Linked DNA regions of Homo sapiens. The protein of the gene in region 1 interacts with the protein of each later gene in a biochemical or structural test. Each region holds a gene or a part of one and is shown on either strand. Other genes may lie near its edges.

Evidence for each region.
Region 2: the proteins of USP17L2 (region 1) and ELK1 form a complex in vitro, tested with the Homo sapiens proteins (one study listed by BioGRID).

The regions. Positions count from the first base shown.
Region 1 is NC_000008.11:12,136,595-12,140,518, reverse strand, and holds the start of USP17L2 (ubiquitin carboxyl-terminal hydrolase 17), read left to right. Parts: upstream 1-1,669; 5' UTR 1,670-1,758; coding exon 1,759-3,351; 3' UTR 3,352-3,924. UniProt on the Homo sapiens protein: Deubiquitinating enzyme that removes conjugated ubiquitin from specific proteins to regulate different cellular processes.
Region 2 is NC_000023.11:47,640,516-47,644,339, forward strand, and holds part of ELK1 (ETS domain-containing protein Elk-1), read right to left. Parts: intron 961-3,824; 5' UTR 927-960; coding exon 717-926; intron 1-716. UniProt on the Homo sapiens protein: Transcription factor that binds to purine-rich DNA sequences. Forms a ternary complex with SRF and the ETS and SRF motifs of the serum response element (SRE) on the promoter region of immediate early genes such as FOS and IER2.

The DNA.
Region 1 (3,924 bases):
TTACATCGGGCATAGGAAGCCTTCTGATGAAGCACACCTGGCCCATGAAAAGACAAAGGAAAGAAACAGGGCCAAAGGTCACAGCCCACTCATTTCATCACCATCCTTAAAATCATCCTAATTTCATGGGCCATGAAGCCAGGGCTGTTTCTTTACACCCAGAGGCCTTGGCGCCGGGCCTCAATTCTGCCCTGTTCCTTACTGTCTAAGACATTTTGGGAAAATCCCTAGAGCCAGGATCTTCATTCCTGGTAAGCCAGAGAGCCTGAAGACACACCCAAATGCTGTCCCTCTTAGTTCAGGGAACATGTCCACTTTCGTCAGCATTACAATTTTTGCATCAAAGGTGCTAACTGCAATTCCACCATACAATGCATAACTGGAAATGGAGGGAACATCTCAGAGCATGAACAACCGATGCGAGAATCCAGGAGATACACGGTTTATTTTTGCCATTTCCCAGTGAAACAAGAGCCAGTATTAAAAAGGTTATGCTACCCTCTGTTTCACTCACTGCTTTTAAACGTCTCCGATGTTTTCTTCTTCAGACAGGGCCTCACTCCCGTCACCCGGGCTTTTCTACGGTATAATTTTCCTTGTTTGCTTTTGTCAAAATTAGAACTTTTTATTTCATCTCTATGAAATGTTGATCCATTATCACGTAAGTATGGAAATAGTATCACCCATGCTGTGAGATACGTTGTTTTTATTTTCATCAGTTCTTTAATAAACAAAAGCTTATAGTTGGGATACCTTTGGATTTCTCAAGTTTTTTGTTTCAAGTTTTCTTAAACTGCCGCCGCACGTCCGAAACCACTCACTATACAATGTCAGGACCATCTCTCTTTTCTGGCACACATAAATTTGGGGAATGTCATCAATTAGTCTCTCGGTGATTGCATGATTTCCCCAAAGTCTTTCACAGCCTACTTTGTGCACTGAGTAACTCTTCAAACTTCAGTGCATGTTTCTACCATTTGATGCTTTATTATTTGGCAGCCTAGCTTCCACAAGAGCATTTCATGCAAAGACTTGTCTTGTTCTCCACTGGCCAGTAATTTCACTCGGATAGAGAGTCAATAGGCTGAACGTGGAAAGGTTATCCCTGGAAGGTCTGTTTGATGCCACGGATATCTCCTTTATTATTAAGGAAGAAAATACGCTGTGCTAAATACTATACTTCATTGACTATTCTCAGGTCAGAAAGCGCACTTCAGACTTCTTGTCCTTCCGTCGATGAGAGGATGACGGTAGCTGCCAAAAGTACATACTTGGAAGTTCATCCCAGCACAAGCACACACACACACACACAAACACACACACACACACACACACACAGAGAGATACACACACGGTTTCATAGGTAAAGATTTCTTCCCTGACATTCTTTTACCTAAAATAAGGCAACTGTGTGGCCACTGTCCCAACCCGGTTACACTCATATTATATGTGCCTATCACCCTGAGGAGTAATTTGATTCAGGTGTTCTAGAAGTCATGATGTGGGCTGTGTCTGTTGAATTCCCAGCGATGCAAGGGGACACACCCTGTGACTCATTCCTTAATTGAGTGCTGATATTTGATTGGTTTATCGCACACCTGATGGGTGGGTGGGGTGTTCGCGGTTGGTGGGGGTGAGTTATATAAGGGCTGATGCGGCCAGAGAGCTCGTCATTTGAAGACTCTCTTGGAAGAGATAGCGTCTTGCTGCAACCTGCAGTCCCAGCAGAAAAACCTTGTGATCCTTGTTGCGGGCGACATGGAGGACGACTCACTCTACTTGGGAGGTGAGTGGCAGTTCAACCACTTTTCAAAACTCACATCTTCTCGGCCAGATGCAGCTTTTGCTGAAATCCAGCGGACTTCTCTCCCTGAGAAGTCACCACTCTCATCTGAGGCCCGTGTCGACCTCTGTGATGATTTGGCTCCTGTGGCAAGACAGCTTGCTCCCAGGAAGAAGCTTCCTCTGAGTAGCAGGAGACCTGCTGCGGTGGGGGCTGGGCTCCAGAATATGGGAAATACCTGCTACGAGAACGCTTCCCTGCAGTGCCTGACATACACACCGCCCCTTGCCAACTACATGCTGTCCCGGGAGCACTCTCAAACATGTCAGCGTCCCAAGTGCTGCATGCTCTGTACTATGCAAGCTCACATCACATGGGCCCTCCACAGTCCTGGTCATGTCATCCAGCCCTCACAGGCATTGGCTGCTGGCTTCCATAGAGGCAAGCAGGAAGATGCCCATGAATTTCTCATGTTCACTGTGGATGCCATGAAAAAGGCATGCCTTCCCGGCCACAAGCAGGTAGATCATCACTCTAAGGACACCACCCTCATCCACCAAATATTTGGAGGCTGCTGGAGATCTCAAATCAAGTGTCTCCACTGCCACGGGATTTCAGACACTTTTGACCCTTACCTGGACATCGCCCTGGATATCCAGGCAGCTCAGAGTGTCAAGCAAGCTTTGGAACAGTTGGTGAAGCCCGAAGAACTCAATGGAGAGAATGCCTATCATTGCGGTCTTTGTCTCCAGAGGGCGCCGGCCTCCAAGACGTTAACTTTACACACTTCTGCCAAGGTCCTCATCCTTGTCTTGAAGAGATTCTCCGATGTCACAGGCAACAAACTTGCCAAGAATGTGCAATATCCTGAGTGCCTTGACATGCAGCCATACATGTCTCAGCAGAACACAGGACCTCTTGTCTATGTCCTCTATGCTGTGCTGGTCCACGCTGGGTGGAGTTGTCACGACGGACATTACTTCTCTTATGTCAAAGCTCAAGAAGGCCAGTGGTATAAAATGGATGATGCCAAGGTCACTGCCTGTAGCATCACTTCTGTCCTGAGTCAACAGGCCTATGTCCTCTTTTACATCCAGAAGAGTGAATGGGAAAGACACAGTGAGAGTGTGTCAAGAGGCAGGGAACCAAGAGCCCTCGGCGCTGAAGACACAGACAGGCGAGCAACGCAAGGAGAGCTCAAGAGAGACCACCCCTGCCTCCAGGCACCCGAGTTGGACGAGCGCTTGGTGGAAAGAGCCACTCAGGAAAGCACCTTAGACCACTGGAAATTCCCCCAAGAGCAAAACAAAACGAAGCCTGAGTTCAACGTCAGAAAAGTCGAAGGTACCCTGCCTCCCAACGTACTTGTGATTCATCAATCGAAATACAAGTGTGGGATGAAAAACCATCATCCTGAACAGCAAAGCTCCCTGCTAAACCTCTCTTCGACGACCCGGACAGATCAGGAGTCCGTGAACACTGGCACCCTCGCTTCTCTGCAAGGGAGGACCAGGAGATCCAAAGGGAAGAACAAACACAGCAAGAGGGCTCTGCTTGTGTGCCAGTGATCTCAGTGGAAGTGCCGACCCACACGTAGGGGTGAACGCACACACACACACGCACAAATACACCCACAAGCGCGCACGCAAACACACACACACACACAAACACGAACACCGTCAATCCTACATAAAGTAATGAGGAGTCCAAGTTTCTGTCTCTACAACAGGGACAACTGGATAGTGATGGCTGCATCTCAGGATGAGCCCACACATGGGAAACATCAAGTTTTGGGGTCGTGAGTCTTCCGAACCTCTGGAGAGACTGTCTGTGTGTTTGTGTTCATGGTAGATGACATTCACTGTGTATTTCTGAATATGACCTACTGACGTGTAGGTTTGAGTGTGAGGTTATTGCAGGGGACTCGGTTTCCTATTTTCTCTTGGGGTGTGTTTCATTCGTCAGTTGTTGGGCGGCACGAGAAGGTGAAATTTTGCTCATGTGGCACATCCATGGATCATTCTCGCCACCTTGAATAGTGGAAACTGGAATGCATTTAGAAGATAGGAACGGTGCTCTTCTTTCTTACCCTGGCTCACCGTTTTTACATTGGTTTCTGAATGGACCTCAGGCGCCCTGGG
Region 2 (3,824 bases), on another chromosome or scaffold:
CCAGCAGTGGCCTGGGGGTCTGAGAGGGCAGGATGGGGGAAATTTTAAATTTTAGCTGTAGGAATAAGATAATGAAAACAATTGATATAAATATTGGGGTAGACCAGTGCTCCTCTGGGAATTTAAGAAGACAGTGTGTGGAAGTTGGCATTAAACATGTTGTTTCAGAGGTTTTAGCTTAAGGAATAAGAGAAGAAAATAATTAGTTAAAAATGTTGGGAGTCCCAGAGGACGAAGTAAGCAAAAGTTGGTATAATACTGTCAGGGAGGTTTTGATTCTAGGAATATGAAATATTCTGGAATAAGAGAAGACTATGAAATAACTAGGGAAGCCCAGCACTGGTCCAGGGGTTTCAGAGGACAGAATGAGGACCAGCCATTATTAACCGTGTTTTCAAGATGTTGGCTATAGGAATACGGCAGGAAAATGAAACGTTGTGCATGGCAGGGCAGCATCACTTTGGGGATCTCAGAGTGGGAGTAGAAAGAGTCAGTATTAATAATGCAGTGGTGGTTTTCGCCAAAGCAGTAAGACAAGAAAGTAGGTGAGATAGTGTTTAGGGGCCCAATACTGGTCTTAGGGTACCAATGGATGGGTTAAAAACTGATAAATTTTAACATTGCTTTCAAAGTCATAGCTATGGCAATTAAAACAAAATAAAATCTCTGATATAAATGTCAGGGGGGGGTTCCAGCCCTGGTCTGAGAGACTGTACCTTGTCATAGTAGTACCGCAAGGCCCGGCTGAGCTTGTCGTAATTCATGTTGGTCTTGTTCTTGCGTAGCCCCCACAGCCGGGCCACCTCCTCTGCATCCACCAGCTTGAATTCACCACCATCCCGTGAAGTCCAGGAGATGATGTGGCCATTGCCTTGCTCTCTCAGCAGCTGCAGCAGAAACTGCCACAGCGTCACAGATGGGTCCATCGCTGGGGGAGTGCTCACGCCATCCCAGGGGTACCTGGAGAGCAAACAGCTGAGTTGAGAGGCTGTGGACATAGGAGGGGCAGAGGTCAGCGGGAGGAGGATTCCTTTTTTTGTCATCTTTTCTCCATCTCTGTCTTCAAACCCTACCATCATTCCCTAAACCTTCCCAGACTAACTTCTAGCTCCCCAGTCTTGCTTGGGATGCTCCCTGTGATGGGATACAACTCATGGGTATCTTAGGATGGTGTGAATGTATTTTGAATGTGAAACAAATGTGAATCTGTGGGGGTCAGAGGGCAGACTGTGGTAGGCCAAATGATGCCAACCCTGCTCCGCATCCTAATCCTCGGAACCTGTATGTTATTTACACTACATAGCAGAAAGGAACTTTGCAGATGAAATTAAGGTTACAAACCCTAAGACAGGGAGATTATTTCTGGATTATTTGATGAAATTCAATCTAATCATATGAGCTCTGAAAAGCAGATGATGGAGAAAGAAAGGTAGCTCAGAGATGTGATGACAGAAGAGGCAGGGGAGATTCAAAATGTGAGAGGGACTCAACCTGCCATTGTTGGCTTTGAAGATGGAGGAAGGAGGCTCAGAATCAAGGACTGTGGGCAGCCTCTTAAAGCTGGGAATGGCTGTCAGCTGACAGACAGTAAGGAAACAGGGACTTCAGTCCTACAATCTCAAGGAATTGGATTCTGCCAACAACTTGAATGAGCAGGAAATGGATTTTCCCCTAGAGCCTCCAGAAGGAACGCAACCCTGCCAATACCTTGATTTCAGCTGAGACCAGTGTGGGACTTCTGACCTACAGAACTGTAAGATAACAAATGTGTTGTTTTAAGCAGCTAAATTTGTGATTATTTGTTACAGCAAGAATAGAAAACTAGTTCCATCCTCCTCATTTGAATATTATCTGTATCTTCTACCATATCAATGTCAAGTTTTTCAGGAGGTTTTTTTTTTGCCAGACCCTTGCAAAGGCTGCTCACTCCACGTGGGGCTTCCTTCTTTCGCCTAGCAGTCTTTCTTATCTTTCAAGTCCCAGCCCAAAGGTCCTTTCCTTTATGAAGCCGTCCTAAAACTGAATGAATGCCTGATCTCTCTGTCCTGTTACTGTCCCTGAATGTTCTCGTTCTTTTTTTTTTTTTCTTTTTTTTTGAGATGGAGTCTCTCTCTGTTGCCCAGGCTGGAGCGCAGTATAGTGGCACAATCTTGACTCACTGCAACCTCTGCCTCCCAGGTTCAAGCGATTCTCATGCCTCAGCCTCCCGCATAGCTGGGATTACAGGTACCCACGACCACGCCCGGCTAATTTTTGTATTTTTAGTAGAGACATGGTTTCACCATGTTGGCCAGACTGGTCTTGAACTCCTGACCTCAAGTGATCCACCCACCTCCCACCTTGGCTTCCCAAAGTGCTAGGATTACAGGTGTGAGATACCGTGCTCGGCCCTGAATATTCTCTTTCTTGATGACAGCAATAATTAACATCTATTGAGAGCTTAATACACATCAGGCACTCTTCTAAGCAGAGAGGCAATATGGCCTGCTGGACAACTGCCCAGGCACTAGGGCCAGATTGCCAGTGTTTGAATCCTGGTTCTGCCACTTATTAGCTGTGTGACCCTGGGCATATTCTTTTTCTTTTTTTAAGAAATGGGGTCTCACTATGTTGCCCAGGCTGTTCTTGAACTCCTGGGCTCAAGCAATCCTCTCTCCCTGGCCTCCTAAAGTGCTAGGATTACAGGCATGAGGCACCACGCTTGGCTGATATTCTTTAACCTCTTTGTACCTCAATTTTCTCATGTGTAAAACAGGGATAATGATATGCCCATTAGTAAAATGGGGATAACAATACCTAGTTCACAGAGATATTGTACAGATTAAATATTATATGCCTGAGGTGTATGATAAGCTCTAAATATTAGTTTCTGATTTGTTCATAGTCCCTTATCTGCCATTCCAACATCCAAAATGCTCTAAGGGCAGAAAGCTTCTTTTAACTCTTTTGGTGGCAAAACCTGATTTGAAATGAAACAAGGCCCTTTCTGGTCTTTATTGAATCTCACTTATTGCGAGTGTTCATACATTTTGCTGCAGAAATATGAACACAGCCGATTACAGAGCTTACTAAGGGGTGTTATGTAACATCGTATATGCATCATGTTACCTTTCTGAAATGTGAAGAAATGGAAATTCTGAAACACATCTGGCCCCAGGGGTTTTGGGTAAGGGCATGTACACCTGTACTGTTATTTTTTTTTTTAATGGGCATTGACTTATTTATCCCTGATCATGCCTCTGAGAAGTAGGTAGTCTTCCTGTCATTAACTTATAAATGAGGCAGCGGAGGCACAAATGTCTACGTACCTTCCACAGGCCACATGTGGCAAAGCCAGCATTTGGAGCCAGGCAGTCAGGTTCCAGTTGACTAAGCATTTCACCATTAGGCTAAACGGCCCCTCACACCGACTATTCCCTCTCAGCATGTCCTTCAAAGAACAGGATCCTCCCTGTCACCCCATTACTGCTTTCTTTCCTGAGAGCAAACTGGAAATAAACATGAGCTTCCTGTTCAATTATACAAGTCACAAAGCCATGAAGTGTCCGATTAGAGAGTCCTGTCACCAGAGACCTCACTGAATTTGTTTTGCAGGCAGGCTTGTTTCAGAAGTCCAAAGAGTTCAGAGTGACTCCTGGTGGCAAAGACAGGCAATTTTACCAGTTCTTCTTTCAGCTGCAACAGAACCTATCAGCTGAGTGAAAGGTGACGGTGGGCTTCCAGCTTCAACAGCACACAGGGCTTTGTATTTTGTTATTTCTCCCACTTGACCCCTCATAAGAGTTCTAGTAATCTGCCTTGCTTAGATATGTTTACTTCTTTCC